7 separate regions of the Homo sapiens genome follow, and regions 2, 3, 4, 5, 6 and 7 are each reported to be linked to region 1. Evidence: microRNA targets listed by miRTarBase, many of them from high-throughput screens and not tested one by one. Region 1 holds a microRNA gene; each other region holds the end of a gene's coding sequence.

Region 1 (4,690 bases):
CCCACCCAGACTCAGGGCCTGGCACTTACCCTCTCTCAGGACCATTTGGTCCATTAATGGAAATGTTGCTTGCCTTACCCCCTCCCTGCCTGGCACGTGTCGAGCTCCTCAGCATCCTGGTCCTCGCCTCAGCCCTCATGTCCTTGCATGTCAGACCTTGTGCCCTTGTCCCCCTCACACCTCACACGCACACTGAGCACGTTCACCCCATGGACACACGGGGCTTTCTTTCTACTCCAGGCTTTGTCTATGCTGTTCCCCCTGCTAAGAACACTGTTCCCTTTCCTCCTCAGATATTTTTTCAAGTATCTCAGACTTTAAGGTGGGCCAGGAGTGGTGGCCCACGGCTGTAATCCCAGCACTTGGGAGGCCAAGAGGGGATGATCACTTGAGGTCAGGAGTTCGAGACCAGCCTGGCCTACATGGCGAAACCCCATTGCTACAAAAAAAAAAAAAAAAAAAAAAAAAAAAAATTAGCCAGGCGTGGTGGTGCATGCCTGTAGTCCCAGCTACTCAGGAGGCTGAGGCATGAGAATCACTTGAGCCTGGCAGGTCGAGGCTGCAGTGAGCAGTGATGGCACCACTGCACTCCAGCCTTCATGACAGAATGAGACTCCATCTCACAAAAACAAACAAACAAAACGTAAAAGTTTAATGTGCACATGATTCACCTCAGATCCTGTGAAAAGCAGCTTCTGGGTGAGGCTGGGCATTCCACAGTCCTCCTGAGCTACCAGGTGAGTGGAGGCTGCTAGCCTTGCCAGTGAGGATGGAGCCATCTCCTCCTCCTGAGCCCCCATCTGAGCTCCAGAGCCCCAGTATATCGCCCAGTGTGCACTGTCAGTCTCCCCACTGGCCTGTCACTCTGGGGGCACAGGATCCTGGCTGCCGTGGCCACCACTCACCCCCACCTTTACCATGGGGCGCTTGTGTTTGCTGGCTGGATGCTAAAATTCAGCCACGCCTCCCCATCCCAATTCCAGCAGGGCACTGAACACAGGACACCCCTGGGGTGTAATAGGCAGGGGAGGGGCCTGGCTTTGCCCATTGTAGGCCAGCGGGCTCACCTTGGCGATCTGGTCGAACTTGCCAAAGAGCTCATTCAGCACCACCACCAGCTCCTTGGGAGAACAGTCGCTGGCCAGCTGCGTGAAGCCCACGATGTCCGCATAGAGGATGCTGGGGATGGGGCAGGGTGGGAGGGAGTGTCAGAGCCAGGCTCCTAGACAGCAGCAGCAGGAGCACGCAGGACTGTCTGGAGCCCCAGGAGCCTGCCAGGCCTGAGCCCATTCACCCCCGTCCTTCCTCAGCCTCCATAGGGATGGGAGAGTCGCGCCCAGCCATAGAGACAGATTAAAGTTCCAGGGGCTTCACGTTAAAGCAGAAGGGAGCAAAATTCAGAGCCTACAGGAGCCCTCGGCCCCACCCCAGGCCCTATCACTGCAGACAGCCGAAGGGCACTCCTGCAGGCAGCCCGGAGCCTTCCCCTTTCCCATCCAATGTTCACCACAGCACAGACTTCAGAACTCCCTGGTGAGAGGCAGCTCCATGCTCCCTCAAGCCAACCTCCACACCCAGCACTTTACAGGCATCGAGTCCTCACACAGCCCTTGCCGAACTCCCGTTCTACAGATGCACAAACTGAGGCTCCAGGACATTGAGACTTGCTGGGAAGCCAAGAGCTGGCATCTGCACCAGTTCTCCCTGCTCCAAAGTCCTTAAGCTCATGGACCATCCACAGCCCAGAGAAAAGGCAGCGGGCCAGCCTTGGATGTAATGCTGGCGCTGCAGGCAGAGGACCCAGGGGGTCTCCTGGGACCCACATCTACACTCAACGGCACCCAGCACCCACATCGACACTTGACAAACTCAGGTCAGTGCATTCAAGTAAAATTTTGTGGTTCCCTGCAAATCAGCCAAAGACAGGTGTCAGAACCGGGGCACTCTTGGGCACCAAGGCCGGGGGGCTTTACCTCATTCTGGGGGTCCTGTGCTCCCTTGAGAACCATCTGAAAGGACCCCTTCCTTCACAAAAGCTATGTTTGCTCACACAGTTTTACAGTTTTGGGGGTGTGCTAGATCTTTCAATACCAATCTAAATTCTCTAATTTAAGAGCCCTGATCTGATCCTGCCCACAAGTGGGGGTTCTGAGACCCAGGGAGGGCCCCAGATTGACCTGGAACCATGGGGCCCTCTCCCAATCCCTATATGGGCAGGGGTCTGAGCCTCCAGATAGGGCGGGGAGGCCGCCTGGGGGCCGGTGGAACGGTGGGCCCAGTCCCCGGGATATGCTAATCACACGTCTCACCGCCCACCTGACATTCTGGTGCCTCTTGACGTAGAGGCTGTGGAAGTTGTTGTCAGGCATGCAGCGACGGTCACCATGCTCCTTGAGCCGTTCGATGATGGCCAGCTTCATGCCCATGGAGATGTGGGCCGGAAGCACTGACAGCAGCAGGTTCTCCTGGGTGTGGGTGGGCAGACCAGCAGAGGGACCAGCAAAGCGACCGGCGGAGGGACCAGCGGGGGACAGGCAGGGTAGCATCAGGTCCCAGACCTGGCCTCCTTGGCCCCCATCCTCCCTGCCTGCCTGCCCTGCCCACAATGTCCCCATCTCTGCTCTTGTCCTCCACCAACCCAACTGAGCATCTACCTCCCATGTACCCAGCAGCCCCCGGGACTCAGGGTGACTGAGAAAGGGCTCTTTCAGCTGGGGAGGCTAAGCTGATGGGTGAGCAGCCTGGAGCCACTACGGCCTTCTCTGCCGCCACCTGGGGACTGCGTGCCCAGGACTGAAACCACACAGAGGAAGGCAGAGTCAAGGGTCAGCAGGCTATGGTTACCCTGCTGGAGCCCAGGACTCACCGAGGTGAGACCTGCATGGGTGTCTGGCCATGCACCTCATGCACATGGCAGCATGAGTGTCTCATGTCCAACAGAAAGAGGAAGAGGACAGGGGTGTACAGGGTGAGGAGTGGGGGCCGGGTCCCACCTGCTGGCGCTTCTCGATGCGCAGCTTCCGGCGGATCTGGATGCACTTCACAGTGTAGGTGAAGAGGTCCCGGGATGCATCCTGCATTTGGTGCTTGTGGAAGGCGCCTGTCAGGTTCCCACACAGGAAGATGACTGCGTTGGCCAGCAGCTGCGGGTAGACAGGGGTTTGGCTCATTATGTGGCCTGGCCCATGCCCTCCCGAGGCACCAGACCCCTAGGCGGACTAGTGATGGCACCTCTTCCCATTCCCTGACCTTCAACCCACTGAGAATGGCACTCTTCCTGGGGCAGACAGGGAAACTGAGGCCCAGACAGGAGCTAGTCTCCTAGTGAGTCACTAGGACTGCAAGACCAGGACACCCAGGGAGGCAGAAGAGACCACCTCACAGAGCCCAGGGCCCGAGGGGCATGCGTGCTAAGGGCAGTCCCAGAGGGCACAGCGCCCAGCTGGCTGTGTGGAGGGCCAGCCTCTGCCTGGAGAGGACACCAGGCCTGGTCAGAGGGAAAACACTTCTCTAAACACCCAATAATTATGAACAGAAGATTCACTCATTCAACACAAAGACACAAGGCAGTGCCCTGGGGTACTCCCCCAAGCCCCGCCAGGACAGGGCCTTCGAGGGGAAACTTCGGCAATGGGACTCACCCCACGACAGTGTCCCTGAACCGGGAGGCAAGGCCTGAGGTCACGACCCTGAGGGCTGAGCCACAGGGGAGCCCTAGGCCAGCAAAGCAAAGGCCAGAGGGCAGGGCCACGCCTGGAGCCCAGCTTCCGAGCAGACGTGGAGAGGGCCCGGCCTTGGAGCGGGCTGTCTGCAAACACGGCTCCGGGGCCTTCGGGTCTGATTCACCCAGAGGGGGCCCCCCCATCTGCCCTTAGACCCAGACCACAAAACCTCCCCCAGAGGCCTTAGCCCATCCCTCACCTGCAGCCCCACCCGGACACTGGGTGTCGTGAAGCCTCCCATCAAAGAACCGAGCACCAGGAGGTGGGAGGCAGTGGAGACGGCCCCAACGGCGACAGCGCCCCGCATGCTGAAGGGCAGTAGTGTGTACACCACGAAGACAATGAACAGGAAGAAGGGCACCTGTGGATGCAGCCTGGTGAGCCCGGTGCCCCAAGATGCTGCCCCAGGCCGTACAGCCCCCGGAACCCTGCACCACAGCAGCCCACCCAGTGCGTATCCTTAGGTTGGCTCCCTCGCCACCCCCTGCGTGGGCAGACATACAAGGGAACAAGAAAAGCCATAATGTGTTTCTAGGGTGGGCCCGGCCACAAGGTTCATGGTTTCCTGTGCTGATCCACTGCCTGTGGCCACCCTAGGTGGGAGGCTCCATGCCCCGCGTGATCCAGGGAGCCCCCACCTGGTGCCCCTGCCACGTGGTTCTCGCTCAGCAGAAATGATTACCGGGAGGCTGAGGCACCCTCTCACCAGCTGCCTCCAGCAATGCGGCCCCACCCGCCCTCCCTCCACCCCCAGAGCTGCCCCACCATCCCCACCGGCTGGTCCTGCGTCCACCCCTCTGGGAGTGCTGCCCTCTCCCTCCCCTTCAGTCCACATGGTTTCCTTGGGCCTCACCCCACCCTGCCCCAGCCACAGGAGCTGTCATAGGACCCAGGCCCACTGGTCAGAGTGTGCTACCGCTTGGTGACAGCCTCTCTGGGACTGGGCCCATGACCACAGCCAGGCCAGT
Region 2 (4,624 bases), not on the chromosome of region 1:
CAGGACTCCTATGGCAGGTGTGTCTCCCAAGAAGGCCCACCCCTGTGAGATGTGTGGCCCGATCTTGGGAGACATTTTGCATGTGGCAGATCATCAGGGAACACATCACAAGCAGAAACTGCACAGGTGTGAGGCCTGGGGGAATAAATTGTATGACAGTGGAAACTTTCATCAGCACCAGAATGAGCACATTGGAGAGAAACCCTACAGAGGGAGTGTTGAGGAGGCGTTGTTTGCGAAGAGGTGTAAGTTGCATGTGTCAGGGGAGTCATCTGTCTTCAGTGAGAGTGGGAAAGACTTTTTGCTCAGGTCAGGATTACTCCAGCAAGAGGCCACTCACACTGGGAAGTCAAACAGCAAAACTGAGTGTGTGTCTCTGTTTCATGGGGGAAAAAGCCATTACAGCTGTGGAGGATGCATGAAACATTTTAGCACCAAAGATATACTCAGTCAGCACGAGAGACTGCTCCCTACAGAAGAACCTTCTGTGTGGTGTGAATGTGGGAAATCCTCTAGCAAATATGACAGCTTCAGTAATCATCAAGGAGTTCACACTAGAGAAAAACCTTATACGTGTGGGATATGTGGGAAATTATTTAACAGTAAGTCCCACCTCCTTGTACACCAGAGAATTCACACTGGAGAGAAGCCATATGAGTGTGAGGTTTGTCAGAAATTTTTTAGGCACAAGTACCACCTCATTGCACACCAGAGAGTTCACACTGGAGAAAGGCCATATGAATGCAGTGATTGTGGGAAGTCATTTACCCACAGCTCTACATTCCGTGTTCATAAGAGAGTTCACACTGGTCAGAAGCCTTATGAGTGCAGTGAATGTGGGAAATCTTTTGCCGAAAGCTCCAGTCTCACTAAACACAGGAGAGTTCACACTGGAGAAAAGCCTTACGGGTGCAGTGAATGTGAAAAAAAATTTAGGCAAATCTCTTCACTTCGTCATCATCAGAGAGTTCACAAAAGAAAGGGCTTATGAGTGCAGTGAGTCCAGTCTCATTAAATATTGGAGAATACACACCTGAGTAAGATCCTGTGATTGCAGCAAATGTGGAAAATGTTTACCCAAAGGTCTGCTCTCCTTGGATATTGGAGAGTTCACACTAGAGAAGAGTCCTTACAAGTAAAATAAATTTGGGCAGTTTTGTAGCCACACCTCTGTATTCCTTCAGGATTATAGTTAACACTGAATGAAGGCCTTACTAGTGTGACAAATACAGGATATTTATCCAGAAGTCTGGCTGCATAACTCACAGGAGAGCTGTCATGTGGGAGGATTGCTACATGGGAGGATTTGCTTGAGCCTGGGAGGCAGAGGTTGCAGTGAGCCGAGATTGCAACACTGCAGTCCAGTCTGGACCACAGAGTGAGACCCTGTTTCAAAAATAAAATATATAAATGACATCCAATAAAGTATGCATATTTGAGCTGTAGGATAAGTCTTGAATTTTCTTTTTCTTTTTTTTGAGACAGCCTCGCTCTGTCACCCAGGCTGGAGTACAGTGGCATAATCTCGGCTCACTGCAAGCCCTGCCTCCTGGGTTCATGCCATTCTCCTGCCTCAGCCTCCCTAATAGCTGGGACTACAGGCAACCACCACCACTCCTACCTTTTTTGTATTTTTAGTAGAGATGGGGTTTCACCCTGTTAGCCAGGAAGTTCTCAATCTCCTGACCTCGTGATCTGCCCGCCTTGGCCTCTCAAAGTGTTGGGATTGCAGGCGTGAGCCACTGCTCCTGGCTTGAATTTTCTTATAATCCCATGAAACCATCATCAGAGTCACAATAATGAATTTATCTAATCTATCACCTTTGTATTCACCTGGAGCCTTTATAAAGTTTTTCTCTATGCAGACAACCATTGATTTACTCTGCTGTATAATACTTTCCATTTTCTAGAATTTTCTGACTGATGTAATAAAGTGTTTCCTCTTATAATCCCTGGGTGCTCTCCTGCATCATGCTTATTTTGATATCAATGTAGACATGAGTTAATTTGTTGTATATTGCTGAGAAGTATAGTCTGCCATGAAATGTCATTATATATTCATTCATCCGTTTATGGATATTTGAGTTGCTGCTTGTGTTTTTTTGTGTTTTTTTTTTTGAGGTGGAGTCTCACTCTGTCCCCCAGGCTGGAGTGCAGTGGGGCAATCTCAGGTCACTGCAAGCTCTGCCTTCCGGGTTCACGCCATTGTCCTGCCTCAGCCAGTCCTGTGGACTACAGGCGCCCGCAAACACGCCTGGCTAATTTTTTGTATTTTTAGTAGAGACAGGGTTTCACTGTGTTAGCCAGGATCGTCTCGATCTCCTGACCTTGTGATCCGCCCATCTCGGCCTCCCATAGTGCTAGCATTACAGGCATGAGCCATCGCGTGCGGCTGCTTTTTTTTTTTTTTTAAAGACTGTCGACCAGGTTGGAGTGCAGTGGCGTGATTTTGGCTCATTGCAACCTCTACCTCCCAGGTTCAAGCGATTCTCCCACCTGAGCCTCCCACATAGCTGGGATTACATGCATGAGCCACCATGCTGGCTGTTTTTTGATTTTTAGAAGAGATGGGGTTTTGCCGTGTTACCAGGTTCATCTCAGACTCCTGGCCTCAAATGATCTGCCTGCCTTGGACTCCCAAAGTGCTGGGATTACAGGCCTGAGTCGTGAGCCACTGCGCCTGTAATTGATTCTGAGGCCAGGCGTGGTGGCTCACGCCTGTAATCCCAGCACTTTGGGAGGCCAAGGTGGGTGGATCACTTGAGGTCAGGAGTTTGAGACCAGCCTGGCCAACATAGTGAAACGCCATCTCTACTAAAAATACAAAAATTAGCCAGGCGTGGTGGCACATGCCTGTAATCCCAGCTACTCAGGAGGCTGAGGCAGGAGAATCACTTGAACCCAGGCAACAGAGGTTACAGTGAGCTGAGATCACACCACTGCACTCCAGCCTAGGCGACAGTTAGACGCTGTCTCAAAAAAAATAAAACAAAAACATTTATTCTGAGATAATGCCAGTACCCAGTGTGAAACTATTCCTGCAGTCACTGGAAAATAACCACTTTCTTGTAAGGAGATGAAATTTTGGAGCTCAGATGCCATGTTTATGCTGTTATTCAGATGCCTTTTTTATCTGTGCTGTAATTGTGAAAGTTGTAGCCACTGATGTGTACCACAAAGGCATTGGTTAAGTTGCTCTTCCTTTGAGATAGATGTCAATGTGAAAAAAGAAATTGAGGGCAGGGCGTGGTGGCTCACGCCTGTAAACCCAGCACTTTGGGAGGCCGAGGCAGGTGGATCACGACGTCGGGAGATCGAGATCATCCTGACTAACATGGTGAAACGCCTTCTATAGGGAAAATACAAAAAATTAGCCAGGCGTGGTGGTGGGTGCCTGTAGTTTCAGCTACTCCAGAGGCTGAGGCAGGAGAATGGCGTGAACCCAGGAGGCAGAGCTTGCATTGAGCGGCAATTGGCGATCGCACCACTGCACTCCAGCCTGGGCGACAGAGCGAGACTCCGTCTCAAAAAAAAAAAAAAATTGAGTGCACTTTAGCATATGAATTAAGAAACATTGATATAGTGATCCTCATAGTAACTAAAAAGTAAAGTAGAGGTTCCTTTTCAAAGACTTTCCTCCCTAATTAGGAATAAATGGTAACTTCTCTTATAAGCAAAATTTATTCAAAGACCTGTGCTAACATTCTTAAATATCTGCTAGCCGTCATAAAGAAATCAACGTACTTTATGTTCTTAGCTCCCACAATTTAGCCTAAATATTTGCCTTGGCATGCTTATACTGGTCCAAGCAAGCATTAGGTCATAGCCTGTTCCTCTTCCTTATTTAAAAGTGTTTTCACCTTTCTCAGCATTCCACAAGTTACTTCCTCCTTCCTTTGTTCTCATCTACCTTTGCTTCTTTTAAAAGGTTCTAAATTGGCTGGGCGGTGGTGGGGGGTGGTGGCTCACGCCTGTAATCCCAGCACTTTGGGAGGCCAAAGCGGGCGGGTAACGAGGTCAGGATATCAAGACCATGTGGCTAACACATGAAACCCCGTCTCTAGGAAAAATACAAAAAATTAGCCAGGCATAGTGGCGGGAGCCTGTAGTCCCAGCTACTTGGGAGGCTGAAGCAGAAGAATGGCGTGAACCCGGGAGGTGGAGCTTGCAGTAAGCTGAGAACCTGCCACTGCACTCCAGCCTGGGCGACAGAGTGAGACTCCATCAAAAAAAAAAAAAAAATTCTAAGTTGCTCGCCAATCGGGACAAATACAGAATGTGAGGCCCCATCCCAGCCAGTGGAAACCGGACATAGCAGTAGGGTGGACGCGTCAGGTTATAAATGACCCTATCTCCTTAGTTGTGTACTCTCGTGCCAAAACTGCTGGCTGAGTGTACCCTTTCTGCAGGAAGTAAAAATGGCCTTACTAAATAAATTTATGTTCAAGTGCTATTTCTTTATGGCACCGGAGAACAAGCATTTCAAACAATTTGGTGGCAATCCGTACGGGGATACATTCTTCTCTAGGGGCGGTCTCCAGTCCTCTCTCATGGGGTAGCGCTCCCCTACTTCATTGCAAGGTCCTCATAGGTAAGAAATTGAGACCCACCCGGTGTGACGAAT
Region 3 (4,614 bases), not on the chromosome of region 1:
CCCAGCTACTCAGGAGGCTGAGGCAGGAGAATCACTTGAACCTGGGAGGCGGAGGTTGCAGTGAGCCGAGATCACGCCACTGCACTCCAGCCTGGTGACAGAGCGAGACTCCATCTCAAGAAGAAAAAAAAACCATGGGCCCCAGATACAGCAATATTCAAAGGAAATCTTGTAGCCTTAAATGCTTCCAATTTAAAAGAGACTGAAAATATATTAACCAAGCACATGTACTCAACAGAAATACACACAAATAAAAAGAAAATAGTGAAATATATTTTTGAAATAGAAAAAGCAAACAAAAATAGTCAAAAGCATGAAGAAAACCCAGATAAGGTTTTTTTTAAAAAAAAAACAAGTAAAATGAATGGGACTCCTTCAAATCAATTTAGAGGAATAAAGTGGTTTAAAAATAAAACTATGAGTAGAAATACAAATATATATACAGAGACTGAAAACTGAAAGCCAATTCTGTTTGCCAATATCAACGAATTTGAAAATCTAAAGAAAAGGAACCATTAAAATCATTGATGAAGTAGTTTATCAGTTCTAAAATGCACTTTTTACCCCGCATTTTAATGTCTCTGAAAGTGGGTTTCAATATATATCTCCAACAGATTAATCTGCAGGACTTTAAAAATTAGTTTCATATTTAAAGTGATGTATTTTATATGTAGCATCTTAAGATTTCATGTTACTTTAGTCTGTTTTTAATGATTCCTATTCCATTCTTTTTAAAAATTAAAAAATCTAATTACCTCAAATTAAAAAGACATAAAATATACTAATGCTGATATATTTTCATCTTTTGCTCTTTCCAATGCAAAATGTGATTGAATGCCAGAATATTCACTCAAGGGACCTGACTGGGGGGTATAAAAGAGACTTTGGCTACAGGGTTTTTTTCCCCAGCCTTCCTAGATATAGTTTTTGCTTTATATCCCTTATATAATACCCATTTCTATGCCACTTTGAGTCAGTTCTGGTGATTAAAATCCTTTTACTAAAATGTTCAATTTTCAAAATAATTATTAAAAGGTTACATGTAATCGTAATAAACATAAGCTGAGTATCCCTCAAAATGCTTGGGACCAGAAGTGTTTTGGATTTTGGAATATTTGCATTATATTTACCAGGTGAGCATACTTAATCCAGAAGTCTGAAATTATCTTTGAGCATAATGTTGAGCTCAAAAAGTTTTGGAATTTGGAGCATTTCAGATATTGAATTTTCAAATTAAGCATGCTCAACCTGTAATCTGTAAAGTCTCTAGAGTAATGTCGCTTTTGCATTCATGTTCATATACCTTTATTTATGAGAACTGCTACTATTTTTGTTTTCAAAACATTAGGTTGTGATTGATCTAGCTTTTTTTATTCTAAAATTATTTTTCCCTCCCATTATCCTTAGGGTTTTTGTTGTAGTTATTCTTTCTCCAGCTTCTTGGGTTATATGCTTGGTTTCTTTATTTATAATTTCTTTAACATTCTAACAAATGAATGAATTTAGAGCTATAAAATTTCCTCTGTATATTACAGGTCCTCACAGGTTTTGCTATGTAATCTATTCAGTGCCACTTATTTAAAAAATAATGTATTTGATTTTAGTTAATTTACTCATTTATTTTTAGAGACAGGATCTTATTCTGTTTTCCAGGCTGGAGTGCAGTGGCACAATAATAGTGCACTGAGGCCTTGAATTCCTGGGCTCAACTGATCCTCCCACCTCAGCCTCTGGTAGCTGGAGGCCACCATGCCTGGCTCATTTTTAAAACTTTTATTGTAGAGATGGGGGCTTGCTATGTTACCCAGGCTGGTCTCAAACTCCAGGCTTCCAGCAATCCTCCTGCCTCAGCCTCCCAAAGTGCTGAGATTTCAGGCAAGAGTTACTGTGCCTGCCTGCATTTTATTTTTAAGCAAAGAATCATGCAGATGAGTACTGAATTAATATTTGGATTTCAATGGAGAAAACTGCTAGTTTTTTTACTTCTACCCTGGTACAAATTTTATAGTGTATTTGTCTTCTCACACTTTATAATCTTATTATTTTTTCTGTAGGACAATTTTTTATTTATTTATTTTTATTTTGTTCTGAGACAGAGCCTTGCTCTGTCACCCAGGTTGGAGTTCAGTGGTGCAATCTTGGTTCACTGCAACCTCCACAGGTTCAAGCAATCCTTATGCCTCAGACTCCCGAGTAGCTGGAACTACAGGCACACGCCACCATGCCTGGCTAATTTTTGTATTTTTAATAGAGATGGGGTTTCACCATGTTGGCTAGGCTCCTGGCCTCAAGTGATCCACCCACCTTGGCCTCCCAAAGTGCTGAAATTACAGGTGTGAGCCACTGTGCCTGGCAGCAAATATTCTTATTCAACAAGGAAAGAATGTCAATCAAATTTTCCCTACATTCATTTAAATGAATGTCTTTCTCCATTATGAGGTCTTTGTTGTTGAGTAAGGTATGGATCATGGCTAAAAGTTTTTCTAGAAATAATAAAGATGAAGCTTGAGAAGATAATAGTGATGGGTAACATTCACTAAGCATTTATTATGTGATAGGCACAATTATAGAATCCACACAATAAGGCTCTGAGGTATTGATTCTACCCACATTACCATAGGTATGTTACAGATGCATATAAAAGGATCTGGAAGAATAAGTAAATTGGTTAACATTGGAAAGGAACTGAGGCCAGGAATGCTGCTCAAAGGAAAGGCCGGCTTTATCTGTAATGTAAAAATCTTTTATATGCAAAAGCAATTGATACATTATCTCTGAAATGAACAATAAATAAATAAATCAGACACACTGAAAAGGGGCCATCAAGGTAAGTGTTTATAATGGCAAAATTTTTAATATTTGACAAAATTGGGGTTTGATAAAGACAGGTGAATACTATAAAGCCAATAAAATGGTAACAACATATTTACAGACAAAAAATATTAAGGGCTGGTTATAGTATAGCATAATCACACCTTGTTTCCAAAACAATGAGAGATAGTATTAAAGGATTTGCTCCAAAAGTTTGACAGTGATTATCTATGATTGGTAAGATTACAGGTAACCATATCCTTTTTTTCTTTTTATCTACATTATGATGAGGGAAAGCTGTTTTGCTAAAATGGAGAGTATAATTTTATAAAAGGAAAGTAAACAATCTTCTAAAACAAAAGGTACAGGTATTAAAGGATACTTAAAAGTAACAGTTATTGACCATAAACAGGATGAGACATAGATACATATATATAAATTTAAAAAACAAACACTGGGCCAGGCATGGTGGCTCATGCCTGTAATTCCAGCACGTTGGGAGGCCGAGGCAGATGGATCACGAGGTCAAGAGATCGAGACCATCCTGGCCAACGTGGTGAAACCCCATCTCTAATGAAAATACAAAAAATTAGCTGGGCGTGGTGGCGGGCGCCTGTAGTCCCAGCTACTGGGGAGCTGAGGCAGGAAAATCACTTGAACTCGGGAGGTGGAGGTTGCAGTGAACCGAGATTGCACCACTGCACTCCAGCCTGGTGACAGTGAGACTCCATCTCAAAAAAACAAAAACAAAAACAAAAACAAAAAAACACTGACCTGATATCCAAGCTTTATGTGAATAAAAATGTAACTTACCATCAAATAGTCAATAAAAAAAATATGAAAATGGACAAGGTTATTGAATAAATGGTGTTAGGATAATCAGGAAAGAAAAAAAGGATAAATTTAGACTTGCAATAAATAAAATAATTTTTCAATGAATCAGTAATTCTGTATAATACAAAAAAAAAAGACCATTGAAAAAATATAGTAGGATTAACCCAGAAATGAGTTTTCCAATGTTTAAAGTTGAGGCAAAATATAATAAATGATTTTTTTTTCATTTTTAACATTCACAAGTAAGAATTTTCCAAAAGTAATGAAGGAATGAATATAGATAAGGATCTTCAAATATTTATTTTATTTGGGGTGATTTTTTTCCTGTATAAATATTCTTAGACTGACTAACCTGTGAAGCATAAGTAAGGCATTTGTACCTTAGTTCTATTTGTAGAGATTTTCACCACTATGAATTTTCTTAAGTCATATGTTTAGAGTCCTTCCTTCAGCACATAATTTCAATTTATAGTTTCCAATTCGCAGAGTTTCTTACCATTATGACTTTTCTTATGTTGCTGAAACTCTGAATCCCTCCCATAAGCCTTCCCACAGTTCTTACATTCATAAAGTTTCTCACCTGTATGAATTCTCTGATGCTGAGTAAGGCTTGAGCCACTATAAAAAGCCTTCCCACACTCCTTACATTCATAGGGTTTCTCACCAGTGTGTATTCTCTGGTGCCGATTAAGAGCTGAACCACTACTAAAGGACTTTCCACATTCTTTACATTCATAGGGTCTTTCACCAGTATGGATTAGCTGGTGTTGGATAAGTTTTGAGCCACTACCAAAGGCCTTCCCACATTCCTTACATTCATAGGGTTTCTCACCAGTATGAATTCTGTGATGTTGAGTAAGGTCTGAACCACTACTAAAGGTCTTCCCACATTCCTTACATTCATAAGGTTTCTCTCCAGTATGCATTCTTTGATGCTGAATAAGTTTTGAACCACTTCTAAAGGCTTTC
Region 4 (4,690 bases), not on the chromosome of region 1:
TCCACCATAAATTTTACTATGTAATACTTGCCCACAGAGACAAGATAATGTATTAAATTTTAGCAAAATGAATTTCATTGAATAGCACACATTGAGAGGCTGTTGAGCAGATGCCCCTTCTGTACTTCCACATTTCATCATAGTCTTACGTTCCTCTGCTTCATACCAATATTGTAAGCAGTGTCTAGGGTCTGAATGGGGCTCTCTGTGGTATCCATGATGACCTTTTATTTTCTCCACTAAGTGGGACTATATGCAGAGTGGGGTGTAGCTGGATTATGACAGAGAAAAGCAAAGGTCCATTTCTCCTAAAGATCCAAGGATCCAGGTGGCTTATGTGCCGGGTGCTGTTGGCAGAGTCCCATCATTCACCAGCATACATGGGAAGGTTTTGTGCATTAGCATCTCCTTAGGTAACTTTCAGAAAAAAGATCATGAGGCCAGGCATGGCGGCCCACGCCTGTAATCCCCCGCACTTTGGGAGCCTGAGGCGGGCGGATTGCTTGAGCTCAGGTGTTCGAGACCATCCTGGGCAACATGGAAAAACCCCGTCTCTACAGAAAACACAAAAATTGGCCGGGTGTGGTGGTGAGTGCCTGTGGTGTCAGCTACTCTGGAGGTTGAGGCGGGAGGATCACTGGAGCCTGGGAGGTGGAGGTTGCAGTGAGCCGAGATTGTGCCACTGCACTCCAGCCTGGGCCACAGAGCGAGACCCTGTCTTAAAAAGAAAGAAAGAAAGAAAGAAAGAAAATAAAAAGATTATGAGAGGGTAATCCTCGAAGCACAGTTGGCAAAAGCCAGCAGCAAAGATGTGTATGTGAGGGGCACAATTCACTGCCTGTTCTTCCCTTCTAGTTTTCAGGACTCTACATCCTGTCCTTCACTGTCATCATGGTGGGGTTTATCCTGTACTGCTCCACCCCTACTCGCACGGCCGAGCCGGCTGAAAGCAGCGTGCCTCCAGTCACCAGCATTGGGATTGACAACCTGGGGCTGAAGCTGGAGGAGAACCTCCAGGAGACCCACTCTGCTGTCTTGTAGCTGGAGAAGATGGCGCACCCATCCCCCACCAGGATAAAGCAGAGCCTGCTGCCTGCTGAGGGGACACTTGGGGAAATAGCAGACTCAGAATGGACACTCTACAACCCTGGGTTGGATCCAGTGGTTAGGTTTTAGAAAGGAACACTGAACAAAGTTCAAAAGTAGAAATACCAAAATAGAGCAGAAACCAAGCTAAGAGTGTGTTTCTGTGTTTGAGGACCAATATCTGTTCGTGTTGAGGAGATGAGGTGCAGACTCCACACTGGGGTCTTAGAGGCACCAGTGGGAAAGCAGGACTGGGGAGAGATCCAGGACTGAGCCAGCCTCAGGCCAGGGCGGGAAAGCAGGCTGTCCAGGCTGGGCTTGGTGGTCAGGAACAGGGGCAGCTCACGGTGGCTCTGGAGTACGTTTCCTCTGTCAGATGCTTCAAGGTTTTTTTTTTTTTTTTTTTTTGCTGAGGCAGTTATTGTCCACAGGCCTTTGGGTACAGATGAGGCCTTGGGGCTGACTGCATGTGGCAGAAAACGGGTGGGTCAGCCCTTGAAAAGTCTTGAGATATAAGTGTGAGTACTATACAAGCATTAAACTGGAGTGCAGTAAACCTAGGAACCTTCCCACAATTGTTTTTTTGTTTGTTTGAGATGCAGAGTCTAGAGTGCAGTGGTGCAAGCTCAGCTTACTGTAACCTCTGCCTCCTGGATTCAAGTGTTAGTAGCTGGGATTACAAAAGCATGTGGCCCCACGCCCAGCTAAGTTTTGTATTTTTAGTAGACATGGGGTTTCACCATGTTGCCCAGGCTGGTCTTGACCTCCCGACCTCAAGTGATCTGCCTGCCCCGACCTCCCAAAGTGCTGGGATTACAGGCTTGAGCCACCGTGCCAGGCCTGTTTTGTTTGTTTTTGTAGAGAGATGGGGTTTCGCCATGTTGCCCAGGCTAATCTCAAATTCCTGAGCTAAAGCGATCTGCCCACCTCGGCCTCCGAAAGTGCTAGGATTACAGATGTGAACCACTGTGCCTGGCCTGTTTGTTTGTTTGTTTAAAACATTTCTCCATCACTCATTCCAGGTCCCAGAGCAAACTCTCTCTGCTCTCGGAGCCTGTGACACTGGCTATGTGCTCCACAGTTTCAGTCCCAGGTCATACTCTCCAACAGTTTTCAGAGCTCCATATATATGTAGATGCCATCCTTTCTAAAAACTTCTCACGACCTCCTGGAATATTCCTATTGATCTCATTTTATTTAGCATCAGCTCAAGAAACTAAGTCTTAGTGCACAGTATCACAACAAAGAAAAAGCTTTGTTTTTATAACTGGTAAAAACAAGAAAAGATTCTCATCAAAATGAAAATATAAAATTAATCATTTCTCACCAAAGAGTATGCCTGGGAGCCTCCAGCTGTTAAAAGACAATGCTATTACTACTTCTTATCAAAAATCTGTAATGCCCTGTGATTTTTATGATACTTCTTCAATACAAAGTGTTAATATGTGTCATCAGTATAATAACAACCAACAAAATGCCACTTTCAGAAAACTGTATGTAAATTTTTTGTAACAATGTAAAAAAGAAATGGGGAGTAAGTGTTCACATCATTAAAAGGCTTTGAATTCATGGAAATACATCAACTGTGTGGTTTCTTTGATTAACCATTTCCCCTTGTGGATTTTTTTTCCAGTAAAGCCGTCCTTCAAAACCCTTGTGGATTTTTTTTTCTTCTTTTTTTTTTGTTTGAGTCTTGTCCTGTCGCCCAGGCTGGAGTGCAGTGGTGCCATCTCAGCTCACTGCAACCTCTGCCTCCTGGGTTCAGCAATTCTCCTACCTGGACTACAGGTATGCACCACCATGCCCAGCTAATTTTTGTATTTTTAGTAGGGTATCACCATGTTGGCCAGGCTGGTCTCGAACTGACCTCAAGTGATCCACCCACCTCAGCCTCCCAAAGTGCTGGGATTACAGGCATGAGCCACCACGCCTGGCCTCCTTGTGGATTTTGAATGACTTGACATATTCAGTATTTCTTCATATTCAATTTTTCAGAGTCGTATCCTCTGTGGGGTGAGGCAAGCCTGTCTATTTGGGGACTATGCTGGGATTCCAGGGAATTCAGAGCAAGCTTACCGATCATTTGCAGGAATAAACATTTTCCAATTCTGAATTACCACAATGAGTTTTTTTTTACTTTTTTGAGTGAAGTAACCTTTCATTTTCTGCAACCAATTAAAACTGCCTTTTCAATCGATGTTTGGTTTTTGCTCCCTAACATTAACAACTATGAGAGTGGGAAAGGTTATGTTAAAATGTTTGGCTCTTTTAGGAAGACTTTCAGTTTGATTAGCACACTGATGGTTTAGTTTTAAATTTGTGCTATTTTGCTCATTGTTTCATTTTATTTACACCAGCGACAGCCGCAGTCAGAACTGCAGTTGCTGATCCTGCAAGGTTGCTGTTTGGTGAGCAGGGTCATTCACAAAGTCTTTGGTTACATATTTGGGTGTTTAGGATACATATACACCAGGATGGACTTTAGAAAAAGGAAGTAGGCCGGGTGCACTGGCTCAAGCCTGTAATCCCAGCACTGTTACGTGCAGGTCTTTGTTCTTAGAGCTCCCAAGATGGTGGTGGGCCGCTCCCAAGATGGGGCAGGCCACACCCAAGATGGCAGCAAGCCTTTTGTTCTCTGACCTGGGGTTCTTGGCCTCAGTGGATTCCAAGGAATGGAACCTTGGGCCATGTGGTGAGTGTTAAGCTCTATTAGAAGCCGTGGGTCACGGAAGAGAACCGTGGAAACCAGCAACTAGTGTTCAGTTCGATTAGGATGAACCTGGGCACTTAGTCATGCAGAAACAATGGCGAGCCTTTAGCCTGATCAGGAGCAGCAATGGGCGCCTCGCTGGATCAGGAGCACAGTGGACACTCTGCCAGATCCGGAGGGGTGGAAGTCAATGGTGGGTCTGCAACGGCAGCAAACAGCAGTGGTGGACGGCTCGGCTGGAGCCGTAACAAACACGGACAAGAAGTGTAGCTGCAAGATTTAATAGAGTGAAAACAGAGCTCCCATACAATGGGAGGGGACCCAAAGGGGGTTGCCCGATCCGGTTCGAATGCCTGGGTTTATATCCCGATCATTGTCCCCTCCCCATGCTCTCAGGCGATATATGATTTGACTATTTCTTTACTGCCTACTTTTAGCCTAATTTGTATTTTAGTGAGCCCTTTTTACTACCTGATTGGGTGTGAGCTGAGTTACTAGCCCTGTGTTTAAAGGTGGGTGAGGTCACCTTCCCCAGCTAGGCTTAGGAATTCTTAGCCAAGGAAATCCAGCTAGTCCTGTTTCTCAGCACTTTGGGAAACTGAGGCAGGCAGATTACTTGAGGCTACGAGTTGGAGACCAGCTGGGTTAACATGCTGAAACCCTGTCTCTAAAAAACACAAAAATTAGCTGGGTGTGGTGGCATGCACCTGTAGTCCCATCTGCTCTGGAGGCCGAAGCTGGAGGATCACTTGAGCCTGGGAGGTCCAGGCCCCAGTGAGCCGAGATCATGCCACTGCACTCCAGCCTGGGCAACAGACCCTGTCTCAAAAAAAAAAAAAAAAAGAAAAAGAAAAAGGAGATAGCATTTTTTGAACCCTAGGAAACCATCCAAAT
Region 5 (4,585 bases), not on the chromosome of region 1:
GCTCACAGTGTCTGTAGTGCTGAGCCTGAGAAACATTGCTTTAGAGTCTATTGTGAAACTATGCCCAATGTTTTAGGAAATTGAATAGTAATGATAATAGCTAGTCCTGTTGATATAGCTACTTACTGTATGGCAGAGAGTGTGCCAAGAGCTTCAATCCTTACAACACCCGTATCACTTACTGTTATTACTCCCAATTTGTAGACTAGGCAAAGAGAGCTTAACTTACTTGTCCAAGGTCATCCAGTTAAATGATAACACTGTTACGGGTTTTATTCTTATAACCACTATGTCACATTGCCTCTTGAAAAGTGAATTGTTCAAGCGATACCAACAGATAGCTAGTGACCTAATAAATATCATGCATGCAACTTCTGTTGATAGAATAATTATTATTTTAGCAAGAATACTAGTTCTTGGTTTTATTGGATACTAACAGTAAAAACGACTAATACCATTCATATTCACAACTTAATGTATTAAAGACTCTTTTGCAAGTTGGCCTTATAAAAATTAGCACTAATATCTTTATTTTTAGGTCGTTATTTTATAGTGGAAGCTGACATAAAGGAGTTCACAACTTTGAAAGCTGACAAGAAGTTTCACGTGTTACTGAATATTTTACGACACTGCCGGAGGCTATCAGAGGTCCGAGGGGGAGGACTTACTCGTTATGTTATAACCTGAGTCCCTTGTGAACTTTTGAACATACCAACAGGGTATAGAGTATAGAGGCTATTTCTATAATTTTCTTATATATAATTTTTTTAACTTTTAATCTTTTTTGTTTCCTTTTTTTTTTTTTTGAGACAGGATCTTGCTTTGTCACCCAGGGGCTTGCTTTGTCACGCAGGCTAGAGTGCAGTGGCGCAAACATGGCTCACTGCAGCCTCAACCTCCCAGGCTCAAGTGATCCTCCCACCTCAGCCCCCTGAATGGCTGGGACTACAAGCGTGCGCCACCATGCCTGGCTAATTTTTGTATTTTTTGGAGAGATGGGGTTTCACCATGTTGCCTAGGCTGGTCTTGAGCTCCTGAGCTCAAACAATCCACCCTCCTCAGCCTCCCAAAGTGCTGGGATTACAGGCTTGAGCCACCACACCTGACCTATTCTTGTTTCTTATAAAAATAAAACTTTTTTGGATAAAGCTTATTTCTTGTTTTTTTCTTTTTCTTTTTTTTTTTTTTTGAGACAGTCTCGCTCTTTCACCCAGGCCGGACTGCAGCGGCGCTATCTCGGCTCACTGCAAACTCTGCCTCCCAGGTTCACGCCATCCTCCTGCCTCAGCCTCCTGAGTAGCTGGGACTACAGGCACCTGCCACCACGCCCAGCTAATTTTTTGTATTTTTAGTAGAGATGGGGTTTCACCGTGTTAGCCAGGATGGTCTCGATCTCCTGACCTCATGATCCGCCCACCTCGGCCTCCCAAAGTGCTGGGATTACAGGCGTGAGCCACCGCGCCCGGCCAACTTATATATTTTCAAGATTCACCTCCTCTCACCAAATATTTAACTACCTGCTGAATACGCCTCTGTACTAGGCACATAATGGAACTAAAAAATGCTCATGTCCAGTTTTTGTGTTGAGTGAACAATGCTGCAGACCCTAATAAGATTGGGTACAGATCGGCATGCGCCTGTAGTCCCAGCTACTCAGGAGAATTGCTTGAACCTAGGAGGTGGAGGTTGCAGTGAGCCGAGATCGTGCCACTGCACTCCAGTCTGGGCAACAGAGCGAGACTCCATCTCAGAAAAAAAGAAAAAAAGACTGGGTACAGATGTGATATTGGAAGAAAAAGATCAAGCTGATGAGGTTAGGATACCCAGGCCCTTTGGACTTAAAGATCACTAGTGTCTAAATTCCATCGATGGCATTTCAGTCTATAGGTAAACTTCCTGGAAGCTGGATTTGGAGACAGTTTATCATCTGATTATTGGGCTTTCGTATAGGTCCTTAGGGAGCAGCTTACCTGAAATGCATTTAGTGTACACCAGTCTGTAAACTTCAACCTGTAATGAAAGTGTAATAAATGTACATTGAGTTGATGTGATAATGTGATATAATAAGAAATATATATTTGATCTTCCTATCTAGTTCCTTGTTCAGAGCTCCTAAAACCCTTGTAATTTCCAAAGTGATGGAGTACATCTTTTGTTCTAGTATTTGGTCTTTGACCCCAGTTCCTGACACAAAGCTCCTAAATTCCTTTAAATTTCCCAGTGATAGGAGAATTTTTTGTTCTAATGAGGTCACTCTTGATGGGCACCTGGATAACTCAGGATGGGGGCTGCTCACAAAGACCACATCATGATTGGAAGTTTCAAACTTTCAGTCTCCCACCTCCAGAGAGGGGAGAGGGGCTGGAGATTTGTGTCAATAATCCATCAGGCCTATGTCAACAAGACATAATCCGTTAACTATGGAGTTCAGGGAGCTTCAGGGTTGGCAAACATTTTGATGTGCCAGGAAGGTGACGCACTCCAGCTTTATGAAGTCAGCAAGTCCTGTGCTCAGGATGCTTCTGGACCTTGCCCCAGGTACCCCTTCATGTGGCTGTTGTTCATCTGTATCCTTTGTAGTAGCCTTAAAATAAACTGTTAAACACAAGTAAAGCATTTCCCTGAGTTCTGTATTGCCGTATCAAATTATCAAACCTGAGGAGGGGGTTGTGGGAACCCCCATGTGTAGCCATGTTGGACAGAAGTATGGGCAACCTGGGGACCTGCTAGTTGTGACTGGTGTTTGAAGTTGGGGATGGTTTTATGGGACTGAGCCCTTAAATCTGTGGGGTCTGCATCAACTCTAGGTATTTAGTGTCAGAATTCAATTAAATATAGGATACTCTGTTGGTGTCTAGAGAATTGGAAAATTGGTTGGGATGGGGAAAAAAACTCCACACATTTGGTGTCAGAAATATTATGTGAATGTAGTATAGAAGAAAACAGGCTTTTCCCTTGTTGGTGAAAAACATGATAAAATAATGTGTGGGTAGGTTGATAATAGTCAAGAAAAATGGGTAATGGGATTGTAAGAACTTAGCCATGTTTCTCTCAGGCACCTGGGGAGACTGGTCTGTCTATGTCTGTGCCATCTGCTTGGCAGGCTTGTCCCTGTAGCAGAGAAAAAATGTGTCTCACCAAGCCTGTGGCCTGGTTAACACCATCACTGTGATGAACACACAGACGCTGCATATTTACTGTTATCCTTTTGTTTTCCTTAATTTAAATACAGGCATGTTTAATTTTTCATGCCTCAACTTAAGTGAAAATAATGGCATTATTCTTTATTTTAAGTATTGTTTGATTTTTGATATGGTTTGGCTGTGCCCCTACCCAAATCTCACCTTGAATTGTAATAATCCCTATGTGTCAAGGGCAGGGCCAGGTGGAGATAATTGAATCACGGGGGTGGTTTTCCCCATGCTGTTCTCATGGTGTAATTAATGAGTCTCACGCGATCTGATAGTTTTATAAATGGGACTTCCCCTGCACAAGCTCTCTTGCCTGCTGCCATGTAAGACATGACTTGGCTCCTCATTTGCCTTCCGCCATGATTGTGAGGTCTCCCCAGCCATGAGGAACTGTGAGTCCATTAAACCTCTTTCCTTTATAAATTACCTATTCTTGGGTATGTCTTTATTAGCAGTGTGAGAACAGACTAATACAATTTTTCTTTTTCTCTTCTTCTCCTCCTTTTCCTCCTTCTCTTTCTTCTCCTCCTCCTTCTCTTCCTTTTCCTTCTCCCTCTCCTCTTCCTCCTTCTTCCCCTTCTCCTCCTCCTCCTCCTTCTTCTTCTTCGTCTTTGTCTTCTTCTTTGTCTTTATCTTCTTCTTCTTGCCAGAATCTCACTCTGATGTCCAGGCTGGAGTACAGTGGTGTGATATTGGTTCACTGCCTCCACCTCCCAGGTTGAAGCCATCCTCTCACATCAGCCTCCCAAACAGGTGCATGCCACCATGCCTGGCTTTTTTTTTTATTTTGTATTTTTTGTAGAGACAGAGTCTTGCTATGTTGCCCAGGCTAGTCTTGAACTCCCGGGCTAAAGCAATCACCCTCGGCCTCCCAAAGTGTCGGGATTATAGGCGTGAGCCACTGCACCCAGCCCATAGATGGTTTTAATAAGGATTCTGTGGTTATAAGAGTGTGAGATGTGCTTAGTTAAGTAAAGATAAGCAGATTTTATTATTTCATGACTTCTGAAGTCCTTCATCTTACCCATTTATTTTCTAAATCTCCAACAGAGACAGGCTGTGTAGTGGAGCACACATTCTACTTGTGGAGAGTTACTTCCATTACCTCTTTCGTTATTTCTGAGGAATACGTATTCATATCTCTGGGCATACTAATGCTCCATGAAATATGTTTTGGAAACATAAAGCAATCTGTTTTGCTTTATGACGTAAAGCAACCTGACATAAAGCAATCTGTTTTGAAACCCCACTCGTTTTTATTAATGAAATGTCATTACACAATCTTATTAGTAAATATATGTATGTAAAAGACATTTATTGAGGCAGTGTAATGGACTTTGGGGTGAGAAGGCTAACCAGAGTTCAAATCCTGGTTATGCTACTGACACGCAGTA
Region 6 (4,690 bases), not on the chromosome of region 1:
CCTCCCAAAGTGCTGGGATTACAGGTGTGAGCCACTGTACCTGGCCAATTTTTGTGTTTTTAGTAGACTGGGTTTCGCCGTGTTGGACAGGCTGGTCTCGAACTCCTGACCTCAGGTGTTCCACCTGCCTCGGCCTCCCAAAGTGCTGGGATGACAGGCTTGGGCCACTGTGCCTGGCCATATTATGTATATTTTTAAAAAATTTATGTAGGGTGACTATTCTAGGGGGTAAGAATTTTCATTAATGATGGGGTCATTTAAGTGGCAGTGGGAAATGTGTAGTCCATACTTTAATGAAAAAGGATTGTTAGTGATATTAAGGCAAAAAGACTAAAAGGGCAGTACTTCTGTTTTTGCTTTTGGGAACTATAAAGGGCTCCATATGTTTTATTTTGGGAGATTTTTAGATGAGGAGGATATCGTCTCTGTCCAGAGGTTCAGTCCTGTAAGGATGAGGTAAGGTTGGTGGTAACTCAGTAACTTAATGAGAAGAAACTTGGCAGAGAAAACTAGCATTTAGGAGCAATGCCGTCTTTACCCTCTGCCCAATGCTACCTTATTTAACCTTACTTCATTTAAAAAATATATTGTTTTCCTCACTAGGCACAACACTTTCACTGGGCGATGGCTGACCAGGTTCCAAGCCATGTGGGATCCTAAACAAGAAGACTGTGTCATAGTTGGCAGCATGGCCCATCCACGACGGGTAGAAATCTTCCATGAGACAGGAAAGAGGGTGCATTCGTTTGGTGGAGAATACCTTGTCTCTGTGTGTTCCATCAATGCCATGCACCCAACTCGGTATATTTTGGCTGGAGGTAATTCCAGCGGGAAGATACATGTTTTTATGAATGAAAAAAGCTGCTGAGTTTTTGGTTTAGGAACATCAATTTGTTCAAATTGACCACTGTCTAAGGAGCCTAGTAATCGGCGTGCCTTAGTGTGTTTATGTGGTAATGTGTTACATTTAGCAATTATAACATTGTTTTATTAATAAGACTATAAGAAGAGTGTACTTTTAGTAAGGGAGAAGTCTTGGAGGGTTGCTTCTGCAGGACGGGGAGGGAATTTGAGGGGAGGCTGAGGTGCCGTCAGGACTTTTTTTTTTTTTTTTTTTTTGAGATGGAGTTTTGCTCTTGTTGCCCAGGCTGGAGTGCAATAGCGCGATCTTGGCTCACCGCAACCTCCGCCTCCCAGGTTCAAGCGATTCTCCTGCCTCAGACTCCTAAGTAGCTGGGATTACAGGCACCTGCCACCACGCCTGGCTATTTTTTTGTATTTTTAGTAGAGATGGGGTTTCATCATGTTGGCCAGGCTGGTCTCGAGCTCCTGACCTCAGGTGATCTGCCCGCCTCGGCCTCCAAAAGTGCTGGAATTACAGGCGTGAGCCACCATGCCTGGCCATCAGAACTTGTAATCAAGACAGTATGTTGAGAAATTCTAACATTATAAATTACAAAGCTTTGACTATTAAAGTTTTTGTGATCTAATGATACAGTTTTGATTCTATAGTAATTTGTGGCTTATTTTATAGTTTATAATGAATACTTATTTCTAGACTCATACACTGGAAGGGGACCCGGAAAGGTAATGTAACTCAGTGATTTTAAAACTTGATTTTTTTAACTGAGAACTTTTTTTGCCCCCTGCCTGTAGGTTAAGTCTTACGTGAAATGCCAAGATAATTGCTGAGCAGCTTTGGTTACCCAGGGCGGGGTCTGGGTCTGTCTGTACTTTGCCTTTACTCTAGATGGCTCCTGAGACACAGGCAGGACTCCCAAGCACCGGGTTGGGATCTGCCCTGGTCCCGGCATTCCAGTATAAGATTGCCTCAGACCTGTGTTTTTCAGACTGGGTTTTTGCTCTTCACATGAAATCAAGTTAGATGACAATGACTGGTGTTGAAAAAAATGAAAAGGAAAGAATTTGTAAAGAACAGAAAATATATTTGAGTAAGTATTGTTTGGTAAAACTTAGTTACATATGCATATATATTTGTTAGGTATATATGTTTATGTGTATTCTGATGTAAAATATATATATATATATATTTTATTACTATAGTACCATGGGTAATGGATAAAGAAGTTAAAGCTACTGCTTAGAATGAAGAAGGCCCCAGGCTTACCTGTCCCGATCTTTAAACTGTCCGAAGGAAATTCAATAGCCTGTTAAGTGAATACCTTCATTCTTACTTGTATTTGGGGGAATATTATGAAATACTCACCACTTTTGGTATTTTATGAAAATGTTTTCTTTTCAGAAGTTATGGTAATTTCAATGTGTTTGTTGTTGGGAGGGGAGCTGCCAAATCAGTTACTAATATTACTGTGTGACATCTATCCAACTTTTTTCATTATTCTTCATTGCCAAATACTGAAAGACTTGTAAATGGCTTTGGCAATATGTTTGAATTCTAAGAGGAAATATTTTCCCATAATTGTATATCAGAGAAATATAGTGATATACAATTTCCTTGAAAACCAATTTCTAAATAATTTTCTTCTCTGTAATCTAAGTGTAAAAAGGTTTAGTTTTTTAATAGGTTTAGGTGTTTATAAGCAATAGTTCTCTATTTTCTAGTTGATATAAGTAGAAGAATTGACAAGTGAGATGGAAATGTTAATTTATAAAGGGAAAGAAAAGCTAGGTGAGGTTGAGTTATAATTAAACTGTTCAGGAAACATCGTAAAGGCTTTAGGCTCCCTTTTTCATTTCTATACCAATTAATCTCATGGGTTCTAGAGTGGTTAGTTCTACGGGAATTGTTTTTGTTTTTGTTTTTAAAGATGCTGAAAACTACTCTCAATCAAATTAGTACCATCATTTAAGCTTTGAATACTTGGCAGTAATTGCCTGGGCTCGTCAATAAATGTTAGCAAATTCTTGATGTTCCTCACTTTTGTGGTTTCTTTTGCCATTGTGGCTTCATAAACAGTGCTATTTATATTCAGTTATACTTTATAGAGTTATATCTTCAGGCAGTGCAGGAAGGAAGGAGAATGAGTAGGGACTTTTTTTTTTTTTTATTGGTGATAAGCTTTCTAATGGAGTAATTGTTTAAATCTAGACAGCACATAAAAGAAAATTGTCTCCCTTGGGACATTCTTACACTGTAATCTGTAGTGAAAGGTACTTCTCCCACAGACTTGCCTACAGCTGTGTGGCTTCTGTAATTATGTGTGTATTATGATTGCCTCCTTCGGGATAAGCCTTTTCTGTAAGTTTGGCCTTTATGATATCTCTTAAGCTCTGAATTCCGCTTGAGTTTTTTTTTTTTTTTTTTTTTAAGATACCCAGGCTTTTGTTATGTAACTTTTAAGGAAGGAGCAGACAATTCTCATTTTTGGTTGTCAGAGACTTTGTCAGACTAGGAGAGACCACAAATGATTAGGAATTAATAGAATCTGAGTTGCTTAAGTCCTATTTTAGTATTCTGGTCTTTGAGCTTCCTTTCCACCAAGAAGATTTTGCAAGGGGAGTTCTCCAGGAAAACAGGGAGCCTTAGGGCTATGGATACAAGGATTTAAATCCTTTCAGCTAATGTACAGTACATGGGGTAGGGTGGGGGAGAAGACACACATGCCTTCTGAATCAATCTGAGAAGAGGAAATATATGCCCTCTAACTTCAGATTCCAAAAACTTCAATGTCCTATTGGGCGGTCCTTTCTGACTTAGTACATTTCCCCCTGCTTTTTAGTAGGGTGTTGATGGCTAGAAATAACAAGACAGCAGATTGTATTTTGACTTATTTGGCTGTAAATACTTGGATTTTCAAATGAAAAGGTAGAATTTATGAGGAAGATAACATTTAGTACACTTACACGGAGCTGAAGAACAAAACATTTTATGATACATTTTCCCCAAAATGGAAACTGGGCAAGAGGAAATTTATTAAAAGGGTGCTTTGCTTGTTTTACTCCATTCCATCAGCAGGTCGTAGGGGTCTGAAGAGGAAGCCTGTTCATGAGCTAAAACCAAAAGTGTGTTCAGGTGCAGAGGAGCTAGATTGTGCTAGAGGAACCCAAAGCAGAGGGAGTAGGGACTAGAGTCCTACAGGGGTGTGTGCACAGGTAGTTCTTGATAAGCTGTCAGCAGAAGGGAGGCTGCTGTGAATCGGCAGGGCCACGGGAAGCCACCCAGGTCCAGTGTTTCTTGTGCTTTTTACTCTTTGGATCACTTCAAGCAAAATCTTATGTCATAAAAACAAAAAATTCCGCTGGGGATAGGGTGCTAGATAGCATTTTTTAGGTAGTGGGTACCTCTGAAATTTGGAGGTAACATAGCCTGATTGGTGTTTAGGAGGATGATCTGGCAACAGAAATGGGAGAGTGGAGGGCAGGCAGAATTGAAAAGACAAAGATTAGGTAAGAAGCTAGCACAGTGGACCAAGCCCCCATTATCACCTCTTATCCTCATGGAATTTAGAAGACCATTTCCAATTCCGTAGCCACAGAGTGATGGTTACATAATCAGATGAGATAATGCTATAGGGATATATTTTGTAAATATGTGGTGGTGGTATCATTGTAGTTCCTTCTTAGAAAGTATTTTCTGTGCTCCCACTTACTCCAGGCTTGAGTAAGAACAGCAGACCAGAAGGTGGACAATCTGGGTTCTAGTTTGGACTCTACCACTATGTAATCTTGGGAAAATCACTTAGTCTTCTTGGTTTTCCTCATCAGAAAA
Region 7 (4,000 bases), not on the chromosome of region 1:
GCAATGTCCAACAGATCAGGCAGACTCCTGTTTTTGGAAGCACCCTAAGGAATTCACATTCATGGCAGTGGGATTGGAAGTTGAAAAAGAGGCCTCCCGGGGCTGACTGCTCAGCACTGCGTCTCCCTCAGCCAGGGCTGGACGCAGCTGTGTGGGTGGTGTGTACACGCCAGGCACCTGTGCACCCCACTCTTGCACTTGTGCTTTCATTTTGAAAACCGGAGGCGATGGGAAGCGGGGGAGGGACAGGATTTCGATTTTTCTTTTAAAAAATCTTAAAAAGTTTTTGGTTGAAAACAAGTGACAGTCACATTTCAAGAAAATTTTTAAAACCTTTTCTTTTTGAAAAATGAAAAACATCTAATTAACTAGTCCCGCGATACCCAAAGTCAATAGTCACACATCTTTCCATACACACACACACACACACACACACACACACACACACACACAAAAAAAAAAAAAAAAAAAAAAAAAAAAAAAAAAAAAAAAAAAAAAAAAAAAAAAACCATGCCCAGGAGTACTCAGATTTCTTTCAGCTGCTGACACCCACAGAACAGAAGCCTGGGCCAGGGGCACCATGCCAAAAGGGCGTGTGAGCGGGGGTTGCATAGGGTGGAGACCTGCAGAATGGAGCTGCTTTGTCTTCTTCCAAAGCCTTTTTCAAGGAGGCAAACAGTGACAACTTTGGGGGTTGGGTGTCCAATATAGTTAATGCCACGTTTCCTTGCTCAGGGCCCTGTCATCAGGCTACTCAGCCCTGCGAGGGGAGGTGACATTCCTCTTTTCAGACCGGATCCCTCCTGGTACAAATATAGCTGCACACCGGCTATTGTTTCAGATAAGCAATGAGAAAAGGCAACGTGCACACATAGATACACACACACACACACACACACACACACATAGAAGTCCAAAAACAGCAAAAATGTAGCCACGAAAGAGTCAGCATTGTATCAAATCCACCTCCATACAAACACAGAGTTTGAAAAGATATGTACAGGGCATTCATAAAATCCAAGTGTGCATCGCAAGGAGTGATGCCTGCTGTGTGCTGTACAGTCTTTTTTCTACAATGTGCTGCAGAAACCATCCCAGAGACCGTGGTGCAACCCCACCTGGCAGAACACCATGAAGCATCTGAACCGAACATCACAGGCCTTAAGCAACCTCCTGTGACTCTTCCCACGGCCTGTCCTCAGCCCCTGAAGGACACATGTTGCCCTCCATGGGCCAGGCCTTGGGCCTCTTCCTGCTCTCTCCCATTACCACCCAGCTGCAACTCAGATGCCAAAGGCAGCGGGCATTTCTTGGCAAACTCCCTTTGGCTCTGATCAGTGGAGCTCATGCCTGGCTCTGTGCTAACTGAGTAGACATATTGGGATAAGTTTCTTCTCACCTGCTCCCAGGTCACACTCTGGCACCTACTTGAAGAAATACTGGGAGAGCCAGGGCTAGCCCCGAGCTTCAGGCTTCCCCAGGTCCCCCAACATGGAAAAAGCAGGGGCCTCTTAAGCCAAAAACCCCTTTGTGATGAAGGGCAGGAGTGCAATGCTGAAGGCCCAGGGGAGGGAAAGACAAGGAAACGAAAGGTAGAATGTCACCTGCATTCACCAGCATCTCTGGCATCAGGGAGCTCTGGAAAGGGAGGACGAGAGGATGGAAAGGGTCAACTGACGGGAGATTGACTCTCCAAGTGGAGACTCAACATCAGAGGCATATGAGGGCCTCAGCTAAGACTGCTCCCTTATAACCTACACCTTTCTAGAAGACTCTTCCTAAGGCAAACCTCGCTGGCTCCCCGGCAATTCAAGCACTTCGCAGGCATTTGCTCAGTCAGCCTCCAACGGGCCTGTGAGGTAGGGGGAAGGATGGAAAACCCCAGCCACAGGGTGGAGTGGTCCAAGCTGGTGGCCTCACTGGGGTAGGGACACAAGCCTTCTAACTGGAAGCACGTCCCAGGGCAAGTCCTCAGGGCTAGAGCAGCCTCCAGAAGTCCTCTGTGGCCTGAAGGCAGGGCTGCATTCAAGGAAATGAGTCCCAATGTCTGCCTTAGAGAGATATTTTGACAGAAAAAAGCTTGTCAGCTCAGTGGATTTTAAATTGCTGTGGTTGCCAATAGACGCAGGCCATGCATTCTTGCACCACACAAAAATTTGCTACAATTTTTAAAGCACCACAGAGGAGAAATGGTTTGGTGTTGAGGTCAGGAGGATGGAGACGGAAGTAGGGGGAGGTGGTATCAACAGTGTCTAGCATGGTCACTGACAGTTAAAGGGCAGGTGCCTTCTGCCCCACTGCTGTCCAAAGCCTCACTGAAAACAGACTGGCACCTGGCAACAGCAGAGCAAACCCCATATGGGCCTTCAACCCCAGGCCACGGGCTTCTCCACAAATAAATGTTTTAAAAGGGACACTTTAGGATCTTCTCCTGAGATGCGCACCATCGTTAAGGAGAAATCCTCAATCTGAAGTTCAATTTCAATGCACCATTCGCAAAAAGTAGGCTCATGCCAGTGGGTAGTGGTTTGAACACAGCTGGTCCACATGTCTGGAGAGACAAGCACACTAGAAACTGAATGGCAGAGTCCACGTGGGCCCCTTGGTCAATGTGGAAGAGGAAACTCTGCCACCCAGCCCTCTGGCCCTCATCCTTCACACACCCTGTCCTCCTTCCAGGAGTGTGGGGACAGGTTTTAGGGGAGGCGGACATCACAGATCCATGTGATAAATTTCCCTTGGCCTCCTATGAACGGCCCGGGTGCTAGAGTTTTGTTCTATTGTGTTAATTATTTATTTGTCATGATTTTTTCATTTTGTTTTTGCTCAGTCCTTGTCCCTGTCCTCCAAATGTAAGCAAGGACAGAAATCACAGAACTGTGGAGGGTAAGGGGTGCTGAAAGGCTGGCTTCCTTCCCTTACCCCTGAGGCCCAGAGCTCTAGACACAGGCAGGCCTCCAGCCAGTCCCACAGCCCCCAGGCCAGGCCTGTGGACATTCTGGCCACAATCAACTCAATGGGGTTATTCCTTTGGCATAAGAGAAGCCAGTTCCTGATGGAAAGACAGGATGTTGGAGGCTTGGGGGTCATCCCAAAGAGTTGGGCACTTTGGCCTTTGGCTCTTCCCGGGGGCTTCGACTCATGCGTGGTCCCTACCCCCACCCTCCCCACCTGTCTCTGACAACTGACTTCCTAAAACTCCACAGTTAGGGAATTATTTGGCAACAAGGAGGCTAAGGCTGTTTTGTGGTGGCACAGTCTTTAAAAAGTTAAAAAGAAAATAGGAGACCTCGGAAAGAGGCGTTCATCCAGGACAGGGCACAAACGTCCCACTACTTGTCAGCGCCAGGGTTGGCGGCCACTATCTCCTCGTACTTTGGGGGTGGGTCACTGTAAGACACGCTGGCCTCCTCACTGCTGCTCTCTTGGGGCGCAGTCACCTCCTCGTAGGAGGGGGGAGGGGTGGTGCTGGACAGTCTGGAGAGAGAGAGCTCAGGGAGGTAGAGGGTGCTCTCTAGCCGGACTGTGGTCCTGCCCCCCCGACTGGGCCCCAGCACCACCTGGGGGCTGTTCGCTGCCTCTCGGTGCCCAGAAGGCTCCCCTTGGCTATGCACAGTACCCCGGTACACCATGACCCGGGGGAGGGTGTGCCCGGCGCGACTGGCTAGGTACCGGTTCTGAGCATAGGAGGGGTGGTGACGGGTCGCTTTCTGCAGCTGGCACCTCCAGATGATGAACAAGGCGATGACAATCAGCAGTGCCACCCCCAGAAGGGGTACCACCACATACATGGCATCTGAGCTCTGCGAGGGGTCTCGGACAGAGTAGACTGCATTTGGGTACCCTTTCCAGAACTCCATCTGCAAAAGAAAAAGTGGTACTTAAGAGAAGCTCAAGCTCCAGGTGGGCTCAGAGGCCTTCAGTAACTCTGGTGCTTCCTACCCTTCCCCATCTGACTTGTCTCACAGAGTTACCAGAGAGGCAGCAGAATGTACCAAGG

Evidence for each region. The annotated mature microRNA hsa-miR-6771-3p reads CAAACCCCUGUCUACCCGCAG and lies in region 1 at 3,144-3,164, opposite strand. An mRNA with a match to its seed (bases 2 to 7 or 8) in the 3' UTR can be bound and repressed. Matches are read on the target gene's strand: a 7mer-m8 pairs with bases 2 to 8, a 7mer-A1 pairs with bases 2 to 7 and ends in A, and an 8mer does both.
Region 2: the mRNA of ZNF552 is a reported target of hsa-miR-6771-3p. Seed matches in the 3' UTR shown: 7mer-m8 at 1,646-1,652.
Region 3: the mRNA of ZNF345 is a reported target of hsa-miR-6771-3p. Seed matches in the 3' UTR shown: 7mer-m8 at 3,371-3,377.
Region 4: the mRNA of SLC35F2 is a reported target of hsa-miR-6771-3p. Seed matches in the 3' UTR shown: 7mer-m8 at 1,817-1,823 and 7mer-m8 at 1,954-1,960.
Region 5: the mRNA of SKA1 is a reported target of hsa-miR-6771-3p. Seed matches in the 3' UTR shown: 7mer-m8 at 998-1,004 and 7mer-m8 at 1,360-1,366.
Region 6: miRTarBase lists WDR76 as a target of hsa-miR-6771-3p. Seed matches in the 3' UTR shown: 7mer-m8 at 1,293-1,299.
Region 7: the mRNA of PRRG3 is a reported target of hsa-miR-6771-3p. Seed matches in the 3' UTR shown: 7mer-m8 at 2,350-2,356, 7mer-m8 at 1,877-1,883 and 7mer-m8 at 1,521-1,527.

Annotation. Positions count from the first base shown.
Region 1 is chr16:50,291,129-50,295,818 of GRCh38, reverse strand. It overlaps MIR6771 (microRNA 6771), which reads right to left and starts at 3,203; the gene lies at 3,144-3,203. It overlaps ADCY7 (adenylate cyclase 7), which reads right to left. Exons shown (of 26, transcript NM_001114.5): 4 at 3,922-4,083; 5 at 2,994-3,143; 6 at 2,317-2,465; 7 at 1,068-1,179.
Region 2 is chr19:57,804,407-57,809,030 of GRCh38, reverse strand. ZNF552 (zinc finger protein 552) reads left to right here. Exons shown (of 3, transcript NM_024762.3): 3 at 1-1,949. The coding sequence ends at 991. Among named protein-coding and RNA genes, the nearest start is that of ZNF552, 8.2 kb to the left of the region's middle.
Region 3 is chr19:36,877,790-36,882,403 of GRCh38, reverse strand. ZNF345 (zinc finger protein 345) reads right to left here. Exons shown (of 3, transcript NM_001242472.2): 3 at 2,829-4,614. The coding sequence ends at 4,107. Among named protein-coding and RNA genes, the nearest start is that of ZNF345, 29 kb to the right of the region's middle. RefSeq lists an enhancer at 3,773-4,614.
Region 4 is chr11:107,788,966-107,793,655 of GRCh38, reverse strand. SLC35F2 (solute carrier family 35 member F2) reads left to right here. Exons shown (of 8, transcript NM_017515.5): 8 at 856-2,665. The coding sequence ends at 1,041. Among named protein-coding and RNA genes, the nearest start is that of SLC35F2, 67 kb to the left of the region's middle. RefSeq lists a silencer at 2,872-3,081.
Region 5 is chr18:50,391,561-50,396,145 of GRCh38, forward strand. SKA1 (spindle and kinetochore associated complex subunit 1) reads left to right here. Exons shown (of 7, transcript NM_145060.4): 7 at 539-2,608. The coding sequence ends at 687. Among named protein-coding and RNA genes, the nearest start is that of SKA1, 19 kb to the left of the region's middle.
Region 6 is chr15:43,865,525-43,870,214 of GRCh38, forward strand. WDR76 (WD repeat domain 76) reads left to right here. Exons shown (of 13, transcript NM_024908.4): 13 at 604-2,888. The coding sequence ends at 868. Among named protein-coding and RNA genes, the nearest start is that of WDR76, 41 kb to the left of the region's middle.
Region 7 is chrX:151,700,366-151,704,365 of GRCh38, reverse strand. PRRG3 (proline rich and Gla domain 3) reads right to left here. Exons shown (of 4, transcript NM_001372163.1): 4 at 1-3,860. The coding sequence ends at 3,333. Among named protein-coding and RNA genes, the nearest start is that of PRRG3, 6.9 kb to the right of the region's middle.